Homo sapiens: one gene and its partners. The protein of the gene in region 3 interacts with the protein of the main gene of each other region in a pairwise test. Each region holds a gene or a part of one and is shown on either strand. Other genes may lie near its edges. The genes, in order: IFRD1, SPMIP2 and KLHL41.

The links.
Region 1: the proteins of KLHL41 (region 3) and IFRD1 interact in a two-hybrid assay, tested with the Homo sapiens proteins (one study listed by BioGRID and IntAct).
Region 2: the proteins of KLHL41 (region 3) and SPMIP2 interact in binary tests that used the Homo sapiens proteins (3 or more experiments, as listed by UniProt).

The regions. Positions count from the first base shown.
Region 1 is NC_000007.14:112,445,539-112,453,513, forward strand, and holds the start of IFRD1 (interferon-related developmental regulator 1), read left to right. Parts: upstream 1-4,921; 5' UTR 4,922-4,948; coding exon of another isoform or gene 4,949-5,107; 5' UTR 5,108-5,150; coding exon 5,151-5,244; intron 5,245-6,519; exon of another isoform or gene 6,520-6,973; intron 6,974-7,975. Other genes in the region: uncharacterized LOC128031837, read left to right, coding at 4,949-5,107. UniProt on the Homo sapiens protein: Could play a role in regulating gene activity in the proliferative and/or differentiative pathways induced by NGF. May be an autocrine factor that attenuates or amplifies the initial ligand-induced signal.
Region 2 is NC_000004.12:158,892,583-158,899,290, forward strand, and holds the end of SPMIP2 (protein SPMIP2), read right to left. Parts: intron 3,284-6,708; coding exon of another isoform or gene 3,168-3,283; intron 1,136-3,167; coding exon 1,121-1,135; 3' UTR 552-1,120; downstream 1-551. Other genes in the region: FNIP2 (folliculin-interacting protein 2), read left to right, coding at 3,168-3,283.
Region 3 is NC_000002.12:169,512,618-169,519,729, reverse strand, and holds part of KLHL41 (kelch-like protein 41), read right to left. Parts: intron 5,157-7,112; coding exon 4,999-5,156; intron 4,877-4,998; coding exon 4,769-4,876; intron 1,541-4,768; coding exon 1,355-1,540; intron 1-1,354. UniProt on the Homo sapiens protein: Involved in skeletal muscle development and differentiation. Regulates proliferation and differentiation of myoblasts and plays a role in myofibril assembly by promoting lateral fusion of adjacent thin fibrils into mature, wide myofibrils.

The DNA of each region.
Region 1 (7,975 bases), on a different chromosome or scaffold from region 3:
CAGTGTGGACTTGCAATAAATGTTAGCCTCATCCTTTTCCCCACATTAGTTCCTTTGCTTTTAAGAAAACTGCTAAAATACAGAGGAAATTGACTCCCTCATTCAATTAAAAACACAGTTATTGTCTACTGGGCCACTATGTACAGATGTATAGGTTGTTCCCTGCTGAAGAGAGATTGGTGACTGGATTCCAGCCCATAAACACTCATCAGACTTGGTGTTCTGTTTCTAATTTGCACAAAGGTGCTACATGTGTGTTTCAGAAGTGACAAAACTGGGCTTTGCCCACAAGTAGCATGTAGCTTGTATCTCATGTCTGAGGGGAAAACAGACAAGTAATCAAGAACTACAATACATATTAAAAAAAAAGAAGTAAAAAAACCCTACAATACATATAATTAATGCTAGTCTAAAGAAGGCACTGCAAGAACAAAAAAGAAAGACATTTAAATCAGACAATTTGGGGGGCCCAGGATTAGTGACCGAGGATCAGTAACTTAAAGGATGATGGGGAGATCGTGGGGAAGGATGTTCTAGGCAGAGGAGTGACATTTAATTATTAATACATTTATTCATTCAGTAAATGTGTTTTGTTAGTTCATGTCTTTTATTAACTCATACACAATTAATTGTCTTCTGGTTTGCTGAAGCAATGAGACATTTGTCACAATAATGTCTGTCAAAGTGGCTGGCCATAAACGCTCCAGTACCACATTCATCTGAAGAGCACTCTAGATGAAGGCGACTTATTTTGCCATTCTCATCCACCTTACAGTATTTCAGGACAGCCAGCTTCACCTTCTTTCGCTTACGCTTATTCTTCTCAGGAGTGGTGTAAACATTCAGTAAAAAATAATTGAATATCTAAGTGCCACGTACTGTTCCAGTACTGAAGATACAATAGTGAATAAAACAGACAGGATCTCTTTCTTGTAATTCTAACATTCTAGTAGAAGAGACAAAAAATAATTGGGCCAAAAAATATTAAGTAGTGCGATGTACTTTGGGAGAATATAAGCAGGGTGGAGGTGCTGGTGGTAGGTGGGGTGAGGATGCGACCTTAGAATGGAGAGTGGAAGAGTGGGAGAGTAGGAAGGCCTCTTCAGGTAGGTGTCATTTAAGCTCAGATCTGAATGGCAAGTGTGGGAAGCTCGGGTTGATCATATCAGGCAGAGGGAGGAGCTGTTGCAAGTCTTAAGTGGGGAATGAACTTTGTGTTTTTAAGTTGGCAAAGACCAGTGTGGCTGAAATGCAGTGGATGAAAAGAGGGGCAGGAGATGCAATATGGAGAGAGAGGTATGTGCCAAACCTAGGTAAGGCCTGGAAGCTTGAGAGTGGTGAGCTCAGAGACCTGCTAAGAGTTTGATATGGCATTAGGAAAGGGACTGTGTTAGGTGATGAGAGAAGTGATTTGGGAGATACAGGCAAGAAACAGATTCCGACAAGCCCTACATGGAGGATCTGGGAGGTATTATTTCTGCTCAGTGCTATGCAGAGAATCCCAAGGAGGCCATGACTAAAGTCATTCAAAGAAAACCTTTCATGTTTATGCCTTCAAGGAAGGTATGAATACTGAATCTTATCTTTATTACTTGTTCTTGAATCAAAGTCATCAATGAGAACTTAGAACTCTTCTCAGGCGTGCCCCTAAATTCTGATTAATGTAAGATTTATTTTTGCAACATTTGAGTATACTTACCCTGATGGTGATTTCTGTTCCATGGAATGTTAAACTAAGTTGTTTTGTAAAAGAAGAATATATTTTACAATGACTTAAATGTTGAGGCAGCACATAATGTCATGTTGGTAACAAATATGTGATATTTATTTATTAGAGCATGAGAGTATTTTGCCTCCTGATATATGAGGCAGACATTGCTATTTGTCTACCTTATATCCATGGTTTCCCCTTCATTCTTAACAACAGAACCTCAATTTTGTTTGCGAATGAGCCCAACCGAAAATACTTGTGTTCTAAACTTCCTTGCAGCTAGGGATCATCCTGTGACACAGTTCTGGTCAACATGTAGGTGGAAGTTTCTAGGGAGTGTGGTCTTTCCTGAAGAAAAAGGCAAAGTCTGGAGAAAGCCCTTTTTCCTGTTCCCTTTCGTGCTTCCCCTTCCTTTCTGGTATTTGTAATCATTTAGTGACTTGATGTTTGGAGTCTTCTAATTTCTTTAAACATATTGCAAAATAGTATGTGGAGCTGAAGACCACTGTCCCATGAGGAGGTGGGCTACATCTTTGTGATGTTTGCACTGGTCTGGAGCTAAACTGCAGGCATAAAACTATAGTAAGGTAATTTTATCAAAAGTACAGTATCTCTCAGAATTCATTATACTGAAGGCTGTACTTCATGTTTGTAGTGATAAGTAGTTTCTCCCTTTCCTTGATCCAGAATGTATGTATGTAGTGATACATAAGTTTCTCCCTTTCCTTGATCCAGAAAAATCTAGTCAACAATTATTTCTTAAATGTTCATTTAACTATATATATACTGACTATAATTTCAATTTCAAATGTAACACTTCCTTTTGTGCCATGAGGGATACAGCAAGATTTTTTCAAGTTCCTGGGCCTGTAGATTTAAAAAAAAAAAAAAAAGAAAGAAAAGTAAGAAAAAAAGAAAAGAAATTAAAAAGAGGAAAAGATTTTTGTTCTTGGGAAGCTGATAATTTCATGAGATGACAGATGTATTCACAAATAAATGTAAAACAAGTACGTATATGATGTGGTGGGCCATGGCCAGGCCTGCCGCAGAACGACTAAGTGGATGTGAAGGGATTTGGAAAAAAAGCCCCTGCCCCAAATGCAAAGCACACGTTTCCAGGGCTGGAACCTGGATGTTAGGCCTAGGTGATGTGACTCCAGAGTGGCAAAACTGTTGCCTTATGTATAGTATAAATTGTTTCTGGATGGTGAAGAGCCTAGGGTTATAAAAGTTATTGAGTCTACAATTCTGTGAGACATCTCATTCTGTATAGGCCCTGTCACTGAGTTGCAGTGTGCCTCTAGATACAAGGAGTCAGTGTGAGCTGCTTCCTCCCCCACAACCTGCCTCCGTATTTGGTTTCTGTGCTCTGTGCAGTTTACTGGCTGCTTCAGGATTAAACAAAGTAAAAGCAACCCTGAAATGTTGCCCATTAAATAGCATCTTTGAGTAGGCCGTGTGGGGAGGTAATAAGTGCCATTAGGGCATTATTAGGATGAGTGTCAAAGAGTTGTGAGGAGGAAGAAACTTCTGGCTGGAGGCTTCAGGAAGGTGGCAGCATGAGCTACATCTTGAACGGTGGATAAAATTTCTTAAGGTGAAGATGGGAGGAAAGGCATTACAAGAACAGGAAAGAATATGAATGAGGAAATGGAGGTAGGAGAAGAGAGCCGTGTATTGGAAATGAAAAGCAGTCCTGTTTGGCTGAAGAACAAGAACTGTATGAGGAAGCAGTGAAAGATGAGGCTGGAAAGGGAGTCAGGGCCAGGCTAAAAGGGTTGGCATTTAAAGTTAGTCATGGGAGCCATGGAATGTTTTTGAGCAACTATTAAAGCAGGTGGATTAGTAAAATAGGGAACACACAAATAAATCTGGCAGCATTACTGTGCATGAAACATGGATGAAAAGACTGGGAGATCGCTTAAAATGCCCAGGCATGAACTGAGGTCACATGTGATCACAGAATAGGACAGGAATTTAAGAGTGCTATTTTAAAACTAATTGCTTTGCGGGTGGGGAGGGGGTGGTGCATCAAAGGGAAAAAAGACTATGAATTTGAGTTTTGGAATTTAACATATGGGAGGATAATAAATAGTACAGTGAACAAAGGGAAGACAGGAAGAAGGAAATATAGTATTCGTTTCAGAGATGTTGGGTTGAGGCACAAGTGGAACATTCTGGTGGAAATTTGCTACAGGCAATTGAAAATAGAATAGAGCTCAGCTGAGAGGTGGAGTGGCGGATGACTCACCTACATTGAGGTGAGTCAGGGACTTTGATCTGTCATAAGCATAGTATATGAACCTAATAACAGGCTCTAAATACTAGACAAATGTCCTAACAAGGAAGACAGAGATCTAGGAGTGCCTTGAGAAAAAAGGCAGCACTGCGATTATTGATCTGTATAACTTGTGTTTGTTTTACCAGCTGTGAAATTCTCAGAACTGGCAGGTAGTATTGTCAAGGGACACATTCTTGTATAGAAACCCACAACGCTGAATCGTCATATATTCCTAGTCTAGAATCTGAGATATACACGAACTCCACAACTAAGTAGACGAAAGCATCCCTTTTTTTGGGGGGGGGGGGGGATGGGGGGCACATAACCCTGAACCACGGTCCAATTACAGGTACAGTACTGATGATGGCTTAAGTAGTTCATGGAACTAGTTAAAACTAAAACCATGGAAATGTTACCCAGGAGAGGTAAGGCTGCGTGCCTGGCAGGTGCCGCAGGGAAGTAGGGGAAAGGTTAAGGAGAACACCAGCCTCCGGAGAAAGAGAAGCAAAGGTGATTGCATAGCTGCCAGCTGGAAGCCGACTCTCGTCATAGGGCATACTCGCCCCACTGTGCATCGCCGGTGCCTACCTCACCCAGTTCCAAGGCGGGGGCGCGCCGAGGCAGGGGTGGGGTCACCAGGAGAAAAGCAAGTGGGCAGAAAAGCCCGTTGGGAAGAGACGGCTGGGAGGAGGCCCCGGCCCCAGCCTTACTACGTTTCCCAGAATTCAGTGAGGCCACGAAGACAGGCTCCCTGGGCGCGGACGGAAGACTGGCCGCATGGGATTTGTAGGTAGGATCCGCGCCCCGCCCGACGGAGGCGTCCAGTGGGGAGGTGTGCAGGGATTGGTTGGGAAGCGCTCAAGCCCCGCCCACAGAGTGACGTCAGGTGGCGGTATTGCTACTTAAGGCGTCGTGGCCTCCCCTGCCCCGCCTTAGCTCCCGCGCTAGAGAGAAACATGTATCGTTTTCGATCACAGCTCTTCACGGGGATTTCTGCTGCCGCCACCGCCCACTCTTACCCCCGCCGCTTCTCGACTCTGTTGTTAGCCGAAGACTCGCCTCTCAGCCGCCCGCCGCACAGACGCACGAGTAAAAAGTGCAGCTCCATCGGCTGATCCTCGCTAAGCTCCGACTCTGGGCGGCACCGGGCGTCCCACGATGCCGAAGAACAAGAAGCGGAACACTCCCCACCGCGGTAGCAGTGCTGGCGGCGGCGGGTCAGGAGCAGCCGCAGCGACGGCGGCGACAGCAGGTAAGGGGTATCCCCGCCGCCGGCATCCCAGTTGCCGGCCAGGCTGGCGAGTCTTCCATGCTTCGGCACGGTGGGAGTTGTAGTTCTTTCTCTGATGTACACATTTGCATTTCCAGGGTGCGTGGTTTGGCTACTGAACTACAATTCCCAGCGTGCCCTGGGCGCTGCTCCTCGCGCGATTTAGATCTGGCGTGCGAACCGGACTCTTGGGCACCGGCCGTGGGGGCAGGGAGGAACGGGTCCTTGGGCCTGAGAGTGTGTCGGGACAGGGGCTGACCGGGAGCTGGGCGGGAAAGGAACCATTGTCAGAGTTCCTTTCTCGGCGGCGATCTCGCCCGATCTCTCCCCGACCACGGGTGGGGAAGAACGGGGAGTTGAGCCCGTGCCGTCACTGGCCGCCTTTGACACCCTGGCTCCAACATGGAGCTCCTGGGATGCCAGACGTCCGGCGGGTTTGGACGGGCTCTTGCGTCACGCGGCCTGGGCCTTGCGCGGTGGGCCCGGGGTGACGCAGAGGCGCTGGGGAAGCTTTCCGTCTCGCAGGTCCACCTGGCCAGGCGAAGGCGTCGGAGGCGGGGGGACCACTTTCTCCCCCCTAGGCTGTGCTCCTTCCCCTAACTGGCACCTGCAGAAGCCCTGAACCTCTAGCACCTCTGCGACCACCCGAGGCGACCTCCTGCTCACGGGGGGAAGAAACGCGTTCTCCTTTGTGCTGCATTCTATATGTTCTCTGCAGTGAGCCCCAGAGAGGCAGGGTGGTGAGGAGCTTAGGTTGCAGTTGGCTAAAAGTTGAGGTTATTGTGCCCTCGCTACGAAGTTGAAACTTTTCCTGGGTGGGATGAGTAGGTGCTTAACTGAACTTATGGTTTTCTACTTATTATATGGTTAAGAAAAAGGATTCCAATTGGAATTGGAAGGCCCTTCTAGGAGAGACCCCAATAAACTCAAATCGAGTATTAAATAACCTGGGTAATATTTTATTTAGAAATTTAAACAGGAGTTAAATATTGGAGTATTCTCCGACGTTATCACACTGGAACTATTAGCCATCAGGTATTTTTGGACACAGTTGCCCCTCTGCCACGGCTGCCACTCAGAATGATATGCCTTTGTTCACAAGAAAAGTAAATATGGGGTTATGTTGTTAAAGGTTATTGGAAACTGGCATTTAAAAAAGCTCAAAAACTCGTGATCATGTATTAAACATTTAATAATTGACCATAGGGAGGGATTCTTAAAACAGCAATTTTTTACATTTTTTAGGTGCCTCTTTATTTTGAATGCTCTCCATGTTGATGAAATTCATTCTTTATCAAGATGTAAAATATGTAATTTATTGTGGCCTCTGGTTGCTCTATGTGAATTGAGGATACTTTTTTTTTTTTTGTTAAGGGAAAGAGGGAGTCTGGCTCTGTCGCCCAGGCTGGAGTGCGGTGTGGTGTGATCATAGCTCACTGCAACCTCTTAACTCCTGGGCTCAAGCAGCTCTCCCTCCTCAGCCTCCTGTAGCTAGGACTACAGGCATGTGACACCATTCCTGGCTATTTTTTACATTTTTTGTGGAGACAAGGTCTATGTTGGCCAGGCTGGTCACGAGTCCCTCGTCCCCAGGGATCTTCCTGCCTAAGCCTCCCACAATGCTGGGACGGTGCCTGGTCTGAGGATATTTCTTACCACTGTGTTTCAGCTTTTCCTCATCTGAATCAAACATTTGAATTCTTTCTAGAAGGTATTTATTTTATTCTATTACCCTTTTGTTGATGAAATGGAAAAGTTTGAAAGCTAAAGTTTGAAAGTTATAATGATGTTAGTAATGGCCTAGATCACGCACAAACCTTTAATCCCGTCTAAAGTTTCTGGGCAAGCCTCCTTCCCTCTTTGTGCTTATAGTACCTATACAGGCCTCTGGTGGCTGTATGGGGATTGCCTTTTAAATTTTGCTTCAGGGCTCATTTGTGACCTTTCATCAGCTTTATTGCTGCTACCTTTTCACTATTTTAGTAGAAAAGATCCATTTCATCACTGAATTTTAGCATATGTAAACAAGTGGAAAATAATTCTTTGATTAATTTATAACACAATACATGCTTTGAATATCTTTGGAAGTGTGTGCTAGAACTTGTTAACTGTGGTTACCTCAGAAGTGGAGCTGGGGAAAGGTATGGGGGTGAGATTTACTTTTTAAAACTTTAACTTGGTCCTATGTGAATGTTTTACTTGTTTAATAAACAATGAATAAATAATAGTTGAGTAGAAGAGATGGAAAATTACACAAACTTTTGCTTACTTAACAAGCCACTTACCTAACTAGTATTTTTAAATGACATCTAAAAGAAATGGGATTCAAATGAGGTCTCCACTATGTAACCAAATTGTCATTATTACTTTAATGAGTTTTCTATTTAAACTCTTTATTTTTTTTATGTTAGTGGAGAGTTTTAGGAAGCTAATAAAATTGACTTCTTTTATACAGGTATGTCATAGCACTTAATTTAAAGAGAATATTTTTAAGAAAGAACAAAACCTTGTTAGTAAGCCCTCTAGAAATAAGTACTTTATGTGCCTAGAGTGCCATCTCTTTCGTGGTACTTAGGATCACAGTGTGGGTGGGTGAGTTTGACCTAAATATCAGGCATTCATACAGGGTTCTTTTTCTTGATACATATATATGTGTATTTTTTTTCTTTCCCTCGAATCTTAGAAATCATTAATACTGATGAGTTAAGGGAGC
Region 2 (6,708 bases), on a different chromosome or scaffold from region 3:
AGGTTTCAAAAGAAGAAAAGCTTTTCCAGTGGTGATGAACACTTAAAAAGAGAGAGAGAAGCTTAAGGGCATATGGCATATAGCTGGGTAGAGCTTGGATGGGCTGACCTCAGAGACAGGTGTGTGAGGAAAGAGTCTGCTTTCTCTGCTGTTCCCTCCTGTCTGCACAGCGCTGTTCTCTGCAGCACAGCCCCAAACCAAAACATCTGTTATCTGCTTCCTGGCCTCCAAAAATGATGCAAACCTGTTTACCCAACAAAGCAGGAAGTTTTTAAATATTAATTACCTACGCTAATTGCTAATGTAATGGTCATTGTCCTGGGTTTTTATGACCAAATCTATACTTGTACCCATTCCTCAAAAAGAGTCTAGACTTTTATGACTTTGAAGAAGGTGCTCTGAAATACCGTCTGGTTGTTATCAAAGTCGGGACAGTGTGGCAAGGCAGGAAGACCACTGAGCGTAGCTGGGTTATGGTCTAGGCTTTGCCGTTGGTTAGTTGTGTAACAATGGACAATCCCGAGTCTCTCCGAACCTCAGCTTTCTTAGTTGTAAAAGAAAGATAGTACCTGTTCAACAAGGGTGCTGTGAGAATCTTCTGAAAATTAGGGATATAACTGCTTTTTACTGCTAAAGCACCATGCCAATATTATAAAATACTTTAAAAGCCATATATGTTAGCTTTAGAGCCCCATAACCTGGGGTCAAATCCAAGTTCTGCTACTTCCTAACCATGTACTCTTTCAAAGCCTTAATTTCCTTATCTGCAAAGCTGGGGAAATAATAGAACCTATCTCCTATGGTTATGAAATTATATTAGAGAATGAATGTAAAGCACTTGGAATAGTGTTAGATGTTATAAGCACTCAGTAAACAGCTACTATTAGTATGATAGTCAATAACAATTAGTTTCATGAAACAATATTAATGGTTGCAAAGACTGACAACACCTTTTTTCCAAACTGTTTATTTGGGCTTTAAGCTGAAGCGTACTCTTGCAAGACATCTGTCCTGGGGCAATATGAGAAGCACTTGTGGATTATTATGATCTTATTTTTTGTTATACAGTAGTAGGCAGTTTCTCCTTCTAAAAGCAGGTTGAGTTATGCTGATTTAGAGGTTAATGTTTCCTTTTCTGTAAGAGAAGTAATGTATATTAGACTTCATAGTTTACTTCATAAGTATTTGCCAAACTTTTATATTTCATTCTATAATACATACGTCTTGTCACAGTTGATATCTTGGTTATCAAAGCAATAAATTGTTATAGTTAATTCTTTTTACTTCCTTTGGACAGAAGTGTGTTCAAGCACTTACTAGTGTGAATGACTTATTTAACCTGACAAAACCAAGATCAAAGAAAATTTTATCTGCAGTTTAAAATTCTCCTTAAAAAAAATCACTTGAATGAAACCTGTGATTAAATGGCTTTTAGAACCTTCAATACAAAAAGAGAAGGTAGCTATTTGAAATTTTAGAAGTTAAAAATTGGAGAAATCCATCTCAGGAATAAAATCCCAGAAAGAGGAGTTTAAAAAGCCCCCAGCATGGTTCAATGGAATAATCAAGTCTTTTAAAAAATGTTTTCTTTTTTTTTTTTTTTTTTGAGACAGAGTTTCATTTTGTCACCCAGGTTATAGTGCAGTAGTATGATGTTGGCTCACTGCAGCCTTGACCTCCTAGGCTCAAGCAATCCTCCCACCTCAGCCTCCTGATTAGCTAGGACTACAGGTGTGTGGGCCACTATGCCCAGGTAATTTTTTAATTTTTGTAGAGACAGAGGCTCACTATGTTGCCTAGGTTGGTCTTGAACTCCTGGGCTCAAGTGATCCTCCTACCTCAGCCTCCCAAAGTGCTAGGATTACATGCGTGAGCCACTATGACTGGCTAAAAGTTGTCTAAATGCTTTGATTTCACGTCTAGTATATATTTCATATAGACCACAGTTCTTATTTCCACACTGCATCATACAGTTTTCATATAGGCTGTGAACACTGTAATTACTTTTTCCAAACAGAAAGGGTTCAATGTAATATGAATATTATTTTTAATATTTTGTGACTCTTACTAAAAATTTTCTATTTCACTCCATAAGGAACTGAAAGCTAATAAAGATCCTTTTACCACCTTGTTTACTTGGAGGAGCATTTCCATGAGAATTGGTGAAATCCTCCTTACTTTATTACTCTTAGTCACTTAGCAGTTGTGTTTCATCCACCTGACACAATGTATTTAAGATTTTAAACCAATGAAAAACTGAAAAGATTGCATCTCTGATAGATATTTTTTCCATGTCGTTGATCAGCCCAGATGGTCAAGATCAACATTTTCAAATGCATCTGTTAATCTTTTTACCTTGAAAATAACAGGCCTAATGGTCTAGAAGAAAATTAGGTATGATGGAATTACCCTTGCCAAAGCCATCAGGTGTCTTACTGAAGATGCTCGGGTATCTGCCTGCCAAATGCAAAAGCATTTGCCTCTGGTGAAAGACACAGATGGTTGCTATTCTCTAAAAAAATGAAGCTGAACACTATTCCAAGGGTAAAGATGTCCTGAAAATAATTGCCTTTTCTTTATTGTTATTAAAGACCTAGTTAAAATACATTCTTGAAAGCAAAAGAAAAAAAAGTTGTGGGGGAGGTTCAAAATGACCTGTTCCCGTCAGTCTCCTCTGGAAATGTACTGGGCCAGAATAATCTGAGCTATTGGGGGAAAAAAACAAAAACCATACTGTTTACTAAATTATTTATAACAAAAATGCAATTTGCTATGTGGTTACGTGTAAATTCACATTCTCAATATTGTTTAGCTATAAAAATTATATCAAGAAGTTCTTAATATGGGAAAGGATTATTATAAAGTTTTTTAAAGGCAAGAAACACTTTTGGAATGATTTCAACTATGAAAAAAATACTTGTTTAAAAAGACTAGAATAATACATATGTAAATCTTAATAGTTAGCAAAAGTAAACTTTGTTTTACAAGAACCTATTCTTATACCTGGTAGTGGTAGGGTTTGAGATGGCTTGTGATTTTTTAAGTGTATTTGAAACTGATGAGATAAAAGCTGTGTAGTTAGAAATGAATTAAGAAAATTCTGACTCTTAAAATATTGGCAGAGATTTGACTTCTAGCCCTCATTGTGAATGTTCTTGGCTTTGCAGTGCATCATGCATCTTGAAGATAGACTACAGGAGATGTACCTTAAAAGTAAAATGCTATCTGAATATCTCCGGGGACACACACGAGTCCATGTGAAAGAATTAGGTGTCGTACTGGGGTGAGTTCTGTGAAGTGCCGTCACTTGTCCCTTTGATAGGTATCCCTAGCATTGTACCCACTAACGTGTTTAGCCTGTGTCACCCTAAACCTCAGGCCCTGGTAACCCATCAAAGTATGTGGAGTCCATCAGATACGTGCCTCTGCAACTCCCCAATGAACAGCATGTTCCGTTATCTGATACTGGGTTTCACACCTACAATCAATCGCAGGACTTTAGGCTGGTCGTGCTTTGTTGCTCTTCTCTGTGGATTATCTTATGCTTGAAAAGAAAATTTAATCCCACACTGCCCGTTTCTAGTAACTGAATAAGATGCTGAAGTCACAAGCTGTGGGACATGCAGCAGCAGCTTGTGTTTACATTTCACTTCCTGGAGGAGGAGTAGGTTGGCACATTCCACCTGGTGGCAGGAAAGGCCCTTCTAGGCTTGAGGAGCCTGCCTGCGTGTCTGTGGGGGGACAGTGCTTTCCTTCCTTTATTATAAGCCCACCAAAGAGGAGACTTGTATGTTACTAAAAATGCCTATCATCCTCCAGAGGGTATTTGCTATAACTTCTCTAGGGGAAGTAATTCTTACTTCTGTTTTACTGTCAGCTTGATTTTTCAAAAGAGAACAAAAAGACATTGTACATTTGGGGAACTGCCCCCGCTTATCCATGATGATGATTCCCCTCACTTGGGAGAAGAAAATATTTATAATGTCGACGTTTAAATTATCTAAGCCTCCTAAGAGACTGGGGCCTTTGTGTTTTGCTTAGATTTCTCATCTTTCACACCCAGAATGTGACGCCTGTGTTGTTCGGCTCTTGGCATTTCCTGTCATAGATTATTCTTACATACTTTATTTACAAAGTATTTCCCCCTTATGAGGTGTTTGCTTTTGCAGTTAACTTGCAACATGTCTCTTTGTCGTTTTTTTTTTTTGCTTTTGTTTATATCTCTCTACCAGCCTCATACTTCAATCCTGCCTTATTAGTTTTTTTTTTATTATTATTATACTTTTAAGTTCTGGGATACATGTGCAAAACGTGCAGGTCTGTTACATAGGTATACACGTGCCATGGTGGTTTGCTGCACCCATCAACCCGTCATCTACATTAGGTACTTCTCCTAATGCTATCCCACCCCCAGCCCCCCACCCGCCAAATAGGCCCCGGTGTGTGATGTTCCCCTTCCTGTGTGTGTTGTCATTGTTCAACTCCCACGTATGAGGGAGCACATGCGGTGTTTGGTTTTCTGTTCCTGTGTTAGTTTGATGAGAATGATGGTTTCCAGCCTCATCCGTGTCCCTGCAGAGGACATGAACTCATCCTTTTTATGGTTGCATAGTATTCCATGGTGTATATGTGCCACATTTTCTTTATCCAGTCTATCATTGATGGGCATTTCGGTTGGTTCCAAGTCTTTGCTATTGTGAATACTGCTTCAGTAAACATACATGTGCGTGTGTCTTTATAGTAGAATGATTTATAATCCTTTGGGTATATACCCAGTAATGGGATGGCTGGGTCAGATGGTATTTCTAGTTCTAGATCCTTGAGGAATCGCCACACTGTTTTCCACAGTGATTGAACTAATTTAGACTCCCATCAACAGTGTAAAAGTGTTCCTATTTCTCCACATCCTCTCAAGCATTTGTTTTTTCCTGACTTTTTAGTGATTGCCGTTCTAACTGGTGTGAGATGGTATCTCATTGTGGTTTTGATTTGCATTTCTCTGATGACCAGTGATGATGAGCTTTTTTTCATATGTTTGTTGGCTGCATAAATGTCTTCTTTTGAGAAGTGTCTGTTCATATCCTTCACCCACTTTTTGATGGGGTTGTTTTTTTCTTGTAAATTTGTTTAAGTTCTTTGTAGATTCTGGATATTAGCCCTTTATCAGATGGGAAGATGGCAAAAATTTTCTCCCATTCTGTAAGTTGCCTGCTCACTCTGATGATAGTTTATTTTGCTGTGAAGAAACTCTTTAGTTTAATTAGATCCCATTTGTCAATTTTGGCTTTTGTTACCATTGCTTTTGGTGTTTTAGTCATGAAGTCTTTGCCCATGCCTATGCCTGAATGGTATTGCCTAGGTTTTCTTCTAGGGTTTTTATGGTTTTAGGTCTTACATTTAAGTCTTTAATCCATCTTGAGTTAATTTTTGTAAAAGGTGTAATGAAGGGTTCCAGTTTCAGTTTTCTGCATATGGCTAGCCAGTTTTCCCAACACCATTTATTAAATAGGGAATCCTTTCCCCACTGCTTGTTTTTGTCAGGTTTGTCAAAGATCAGATGGTTGTAGATGTGTGGTGGTATTTCTGAGGCCTCAGTTCTGTTCCATTGGTCTGTATATCTGTTTTGGTACCAATACCGTGCTGTTTTGGTTACCGTAGCCTTGTTGTATAGTTTGAAGGCAGGTAGCATGATGCCTCCAGCTTTGTTCTTTTTGCTTAGGATTGCCTTGGCTATGCAGGCTCTTTTTTGGTTCCATATGAAATTTAAAATAGTTTTTTCCAGTTCTGTGAAGAACATCCATGGGAGCTTGATGGGGATAGCATTGCATCTATAAATTACTTTGGGGAGTATGGCCATTTTCACAATATTGATTCTTCCTATCCATGAGCATGGAATGTTCTTCCATTTATTTGTGTCCTCTCTTATTTCCTTGAGCAGTGGTTTGCAGTTCTCCTTGAAGAGGTCCTTCACATCTCTTGTAAGTTATATTACTAGGTATTTTATTCTCTTTGTAGCAATTGTGAATAGGAGTTCACTTGTGATTTGGCTCTCTGTCTGTTATTGGTGTATAGGAACGCATGTGATTTTTGCACATTGATTTTGTATCCTGAGACTTTGCTGAAGTTGCTTATCAGCTTAAGGAGATTTTGGGCTGAAATGTTGGGGTTTTCCAAATATACAATCATGTCATCTGCAAACAGAGACAATTTGACTTCCTCTCTTCCTATTTGAATACGCTTTATTTCTTTCTCTTGCATGATTGTCCTGGCCAGAACTTCCAATACTATGTTGAATAGTTGAATAGGAGTGGTGAGAGAGAGCATCCTTGTCTTGTGCTGGTTTCCAAAGGGAATTCTTCCAGTTTTTGCCCATTCAGTATGATATTGGCTGTGGGTTTGTCAGAAATAGCTCTTATTATTTTGGGATACGTTCCCTCAATACCTAGTTTATTGAGAGTTTATAGCTTGAAGTGGTGTTGAGTTTTGTCGAAGGCCTTTTCTGCATCTATTGAGATGAGATAATCATCTGGTTTTTGTCACTGGTTTTGTTTATGCGATGGATTACCTTTATTGATTTGTGTATGTTGAACCAGTCTTGCATCCCAGGGATGAAGCCAGCTGGATCGTGGTGGATAAGCTTTTTGATGTGCTGCTGGATTCAGTTTGCCAGTGTTTTATTGAGGATTTTTGCATTGATGTTCATCAGGG
Region 3 (7,112 bases):
ATATATGTACATTATAGAAAATCTGTACTCCAGCCTGTGTGACACAGTGAGACCCTGTCTCAAAAAAAAAAAAAAAAAGTTTGAGAAAATCTGGAAAGTACAGAAAGGTATACAAGAGAGCAGATATCTCCATAATCATACCTTACAGACATAATCACAAGCAACAATTTGGTGTAATTTTGTCATCTTTTTAAAAAGCATGTACATTTAAGCTTCCATACATATAAATGAAACTAAGAAGATATTTACAATTTTTGTGTGTTGCTTCTTAACTTACATCATGAGTGTTTACCCACATTACAGTCTTCGAAAACATTATTTTTAATGATAATTTAAATAGTGTTCCACAAAAGTTCCTTGTAATTTTCAGATACTAAAGTCTGTTTTGTAGTCAGGCATACATGTTTCTAAAAAAAGTAATAATATTTCTCTTTTTTCTTCATTGCTAAACTAGGAATATAAAAGGTACATACTCATCCAGATGTGTGAGCTCAAAAATTTTAAAAAGACCAATTTTATATGAAGAATAGCTGTCAAATATCTTTTCACATTAAGTCAATAAAAGCTTAAAAATGAAATTTTTAATAAAATTATAAACAGCGTAAAGGAATGAAAACTTGGGAAGCATTCATACTTTACAGATATCAATCATTAACAAGTTAAGTGAAGATCTTTTCATAAAGAAACTACATTTAAAATCAAATGATTCCACAGAGACATGTATATCCATCTACACAGACAATTATTCAGGGCCAGGTGTGCTGGCTCACACCTATAATCCTAGCACTTTGGGAGGCCACCGTGAGAGGATCATTTGAGGCCAGGAGTTAGAGACCAGTATGGACAACATAGTGAGACCCTGTCTGTACCAAAAACAAAAACAAAAACAAAAATTAGCTGGGCATAGTGGTAGTCCTAGCTACTCAGGAGCCTGAGGTGAGAGGATCACCTGAGCCCAGGAGTTTGAGGCAGCAGTGAGCTATGATTGTGCCACTGCACTCCAGCCTGGGTGACAGAGCCAGACCTTGTCTCTTAAAAATAATCATAATTATTCACAAGTATTACCTTTGCATTTCTAAATTCACAAAGTTAATAACAAGGACAAATAGAGCATGACAACACTGACTTAAGGGTCATGTGTTCCAGATTACAGACATATAATGCATCAGAATGTTAGACAAGATTTACATCCAGTAACAACAAAAGAAACCCAGATGAAAATACTTCCTTTGTAATCTGTGGCTCTGTACCCTCCCCTCCCCACATCCTAATTAGAAAGATAACTTTTTATCCAAAGTTAACAATTAAAATGTATAGTTGTTCACATGCTATATACTAAGATGTGGCAACTCACTTATTTGTTGTAAGGTCAAAAGCTTCAACTGAAGCTGAAAGACCATCTTCAGTGACACCTCCTGCAATCACAATTTTGCCTTTATGGACTGCTACTCCAAACATGGAACGAGGAATTTTCATTGGAGCCAGATCTTTCCAATCTCCTTTTTTGGGGTTGAAGATAAACACCCTGTTTGTACATTTTCTGTAAACAGAAAAACAAATGTTCCTTTTAGAACCTTTTTTTGACAGCACCTTCACTAATAATTTGGCTTTGCTTGTCATGAAAAATATATAGTAGGATCAGAAAACTCCAAAGAATTCTTAATTTGAACATATGCCACTAAACAAAGGACAAGCCCAAATGTGGGGACCAAAACTATAACTTAATTTTACTGTTGGAAGATAGGGTACCTTTACTTCTGGATAGCTGCTTAGAACCCCAGGCACAGCTGATTTTAATCGTATCTACTAAATTCAATTGAAGTTTTTTTACTCTATTTGAGTAAAAAATAAAATCATAAACCTTTTATTGCACCTCAATAACAAATGGTAAGTTTATTTATTATCTGAATATCCTAGGAACGAATCAGTTAACTTAAAGAATAATTAGGTGCAAATATACCTACTTTAAATTTTATATGATAGATCATTTTATTTTATATTAGCACTAACATACCAGTGCATTTTAAGAAATCTGGGACTATGGATTAGACAACAAATCATCTGAGCTGATGAATCATGACAACAGTTTTACATGCTAAATGCTACCAGAAAGACCTGGACTCATCTGAATTATTATTCACTCTGCCACCCAGGCTGGAGTGCAGTGGTGCGATCTTGGCTCACCGCAACCTCCGCATCCAGGGCTCAAGTGATCCTCCCATCTCAACTTCCCAGGTAGCTGGGAACACAGGCATGTGCCATCACACCCAGCTAGTTTTTTGTATGCTTGGTAGAGACAGGGTTTCGCCATGTTGGCCAGGCTGGTCTCGAATTCCTGAGCTCAAGTGATCCTCCAGCCTCAGCCTCCCAAAGTGCTGGGATTACAGGTGTGAGCCACCATGCCCCGCCCTTAGTATGTTTTTTATGGTTCCTTGAAGTTATCTATAATTTGATGGGAGTTCAGAATTTCAAATAATAATTGATTAACTGGATATATTTGGTGATGAAAAACACCTTAACTTTTTTGTGAGGACAATTTTTTTCTTAATTGTGTAAAAGACCAGTTATCTGGAGTAGAAGCATTTCCTCTAATATTTGACTATTGGTATCATTTGAACACTTCTTGATAAGAACATTATCCAAAATCACGTTCTTCAAATTCATTAGTGGGAACTGGTGCAATTCAGCACTTACTTTTATTTATTTATTTATTTCTGGAGACGGAGTTTCGCTCTTGTTGCCCAGGCTGGAGTGCAGTGGCGCGATATCAGCTCACTGTCTCCCGGGTTCAAGTGATTCTCCTGCCTCAGCCTCCCTAGTAGCTGGGATTACAGGCAAACGGCACCACGCCCGGTTAATTTTGTATTTTTAGTAGAGACGGGGTTTCTCCACGTTGGACAGGCTGGTCTCAAATTCCCGACCTCAGGTGATCCACCTGCCTCGGTCTCCCAAAGTGCTGGGATTACAGGCATGAGCCACTGCACCCAGCCCAGCACTTACTTTTAGATAATGACTCATTTCAAAGTTCTTGACTTTGACATTTGTCAAGCAGTGTTGTGTTAGTTAATCATATTCTCAAGATTGATATATTCCTACTGACAAGAACTGTATGCTTCTTACTGACATATCAATTTCCTAGTTACTAATGCTGCTTGAAGGAAACAATTTAAATCATTTGGCAGGGTTCCTGTGTTTCCAAAGTCAGAATGCTCTTTAGTAGTGATTTTCCATTCAGTTTACTCAGGAAAAATGCCCAAAATAAGATCTGGCACCAGGTAAGCATATAATATACCTTCCTTTAAATTTGATAGGAATAGCTGGGATTAGGGAGGATATAAAAATTTTAGAATATGTTATCTTTGAATACAGGTAGATGTTTAAAAACCATTGCTTTTTAAAATCGCCTTTTCTGTGCTATATTTACCATTTAAATTGACTAATACCCAATAATCATTAACTCCAGAATAGAGTTCTTGACATCTAACACATTTCTATATTTTACTCTCCTTTCCTGCTTTGCCCTTACAATTCTAAATTTTGGCTCCCTTTTCAGGGTTGGACATCACTATTAATTCAATGGCCTGGGCAAATGATGACAAGCCAAATCAGGCAGATTTTTCAGGGGCAGAATATTAGTTCTCACCATCTAAACTGAAAATGCTTATTTTACTAGACAGGTTATACTGGTTTGACTGTCTCTGAAGCATTCGGAGCTCACTTCTCCTCTCTCTGGGTTATAACATCTCTTTCCTGATTACAGGTTCCTTAAGAATTGACTGGAAATCAAGTTAGGTTTATATATGAAACCTCATCCTGGTTTTCTCACAAGATACTGGGTGCTACTGGGAGCTCAGTTTTGAACAGTTGGAAGCCATTTTGAATATTACCTCTGTCAGGGAGTAAATATGTGGAAGAACACTGCTGAGGAAATAATTGCCTTAATTTTTTGTTTTTATTTTGTCTTTTTTACTTCCCTCTTTTCAATCACCACGCTTTTCTTTCAAACTGACCTATCTAAAGTCCCTCTTATGAATGTAAAGTACAAATCCATGATATTTTTTATGCACAGTTGTCTTAGAAGATATATTTTAAATACTACATTAAAGATACCTTTCAATTTTTATCTACTTATGGCTAAATGAATAAGAAAACCCATTGGTTTTAATGTAGTAAAATACAATTATAAATCAGTGAAATACAGGACTTGATTATGCTCCTAGATACTGCCTGGACTGTAAGGATGCTTATGATTGGGGTATTAGGCTCATTCCTAGCAGTATGCTGAGTATCTACATGTTTACTTCAGCGACTTGAAATTTTAAGATTTTCCCTCCACAATATGATAGGTGAGAACCATGTCCCATTTTAGTGTGCAGATCCAAAGGAAAAGAGGAAGAGACCGGGCGTGGTGGCTCACACCTATAATCCTAGCACTTTGGGAGGCTGAAGCGGGCAGATCACCTGAGGTCGGGAGTTCAAGACCAGCCTGACCAACATGGAGAAACCCTGTCTCTACTAAAAATACAAAATTAGCCAGGCGTGGTGGAGCATGCCTGTAATCCCAGCTACTCAGGAGGCTGAGACAGGAGAATCGCTTGAACCCAGGAGGCGGCGGTTGCAGTGAGCCGAGATCACACCACTGCACTCCAGCCTGGGCAACAAGAGTGAAGCTCCATCTCAAAAAAAAAAAAAAAGAAAAGAAAAGAGGAAGAAACCCTTCTAATAAAAAGTCATTTAGACATAAATCATGAGAGTTCAGGGTACTTACTTGTCATCTGTCTTTCCTCCTAGACAATATATCATCCCTTTATGTGAAATCACATTATGGCCATAGACTTTGATAGGGAGTTTTTTTACTTCGTTCCATTTTGCAGCCCTAAAATTAAACGAGACAGAATTTATATACCTTCAGTAAATTCCAGGTTCTGAAAATATGAATATGTTGTAGGCACGCATATACTTGAATGCTTAGGGAACAGGAATATCATGCCAACTTACACAGGATCATAGCATAATACTGAATCCAGCGAAGCCTCTGTTTGAAGGTCTTTGCCTGCAACTACATAGATTTTATCATCCACCTCTCCCAGACCGAAGAGACACCTGGCTGAAGGCAGAGGTGGAAGTCCAACCCATTCAGATGCTATGCTATCGAGCTGAAAAAAACATATATGAGAGATTGTGGAGCCTGTTAGAAAAAAATTAGAAGTACACCAAAAAAAGTTATACTTTATATGTTGTTTAGAAGTCATCGAGATAGTCAAATATCTCACAAGTAAATAAAACTACAACCCCAAAGTATCACATTGTAGCTCATAATTACCAAGAAGAATGAGTAAATCTACTTGGCCTACCAGATAAAGATATCAAAATCTTCAAGGCTTCAAGAAAAGAAAAAATAAAATAGAATCACCAGAGGTTAATTACAACTGTGAGGTTTCTTGTCAAATTTTCTCCCATATTGCCTTGTTCAGCTTTGAAACAGGAGATCCTCATACTTTTAGGACACTGGGGAAAGAAAGGTTGTCATAACAAGGAGGGTCACAGAATGTGAATGACCCCTGCGTGCTATATTTAACATGCTCCCCATGCCGGCAGCTGGGACAGCTGGACCTGTCACTCAGTCCACAAACAACTGGGATGTTGGGCAATATCTTTTTTTCTTTCTTTAAAAACATTTTAGGTTCTCTGTGTTTTGCTTTATTATTCCTGATACAGGCAGGCGTTAAAGTGAATTTCCTAGTGTGTTGTTGGGAGTCCCTTGAAATACTCTTCTCTTTTTTAAAAAATTTATATTAATAAGTAACTGCTCATTTTTGGTCACCACCACTTCTGCAAGCTTAAGATTTTCCCAAGGAGGAAAATCTCCTTGTGCCCATGCCCTGGGGTAGATGATGGTGGCATCTGTTTCATCACTTACTTTTGGTAATTTAAATATTTTACACTTTTCATTTTAGCACACTAAGGCACAAGAAAACTGTTTTCTGCAAGAGTACAGTTGCAGATTTGTTGTTCTCTCTGGTACCACTTCTAGATTGCAAAAATAAAATGAATAAAACCCAGTTTCACTGGATACTAAGAATAGATGTGCATACAAATGGCTGTGGTATAGACAGGGGTGTCTGTGGAAGCCTATCTATATGTGGTCTAGTAACCTCAGTTAAACAAAGCGCTAATTAAGACTAGATGACATGAGAAGTTTAATCTCCACATGTGCATTCTTAGCTTTGCATTCACTAATTTCAACAGCTAGATTTTGATCCCTTATGTTTTCACTTTTGAAAGAAATTCTTTGATCATGAAGGTGGTATGTAATATAGTAGAAATAATAATGAACATTTATGGGGTTTTGACTGTTGTCATAGTCTTTGAACTAAATGCTTTACACAGGTAACCTCATTTAGTTCTCCAGGATAGGCATTTCTATCATCCCCATTTTACAGATGAGGAAACCGAGGCACAGGAAGATTAAATAATTTTCCCAAATACACAGAACTTTTAGGTGATATTCAAATCCAAGCCATGTACATTCACAGTTGGTTTTAAAAAATGGAAACAGCAGCCATCATAATCCCATACCTGTGGGCTTAACTCTCATACTGTACAGTACTGCCTACCTTCCCATATTACCTGTTAGAGGGCACTTTCTCTAGCAGATGGAACAGTAGACTACCTACCAGTCTCTTTTATAGAGGAACTATCAAGCTATTTAACTTCTCTGAGTTCAACTTTCCTCATTGTTAAAATTAGGGTTTGGACCTAGATTACTTTAAGACCTGTTCAAAGATTTGATGAATCTATTAATTCAAATTAATGAGTGGGGGAAAAAATCCTCCCTTACCAAGGTAAAAAATTCTCATAATCTATTTACAGCATACAATCAAAGGTCAAATTACTCCTAAATTAATGCATTTTAAATAGATGTGACCAAGCAGAAAAATATAAAACCTGAAATTCTCATGTAAATATTGTCTGATGAGTCACAACCCTCTTTTATGGTGAAGTGTTTTTATCCTGGCATACCGTTCTATTAGTGCCTTTTAAAAGCAGCAAGGCATTTGCTTTGCTGACCTTCCAACTTTGTATAACTGTTATTGTTAATGTTCTGTTAT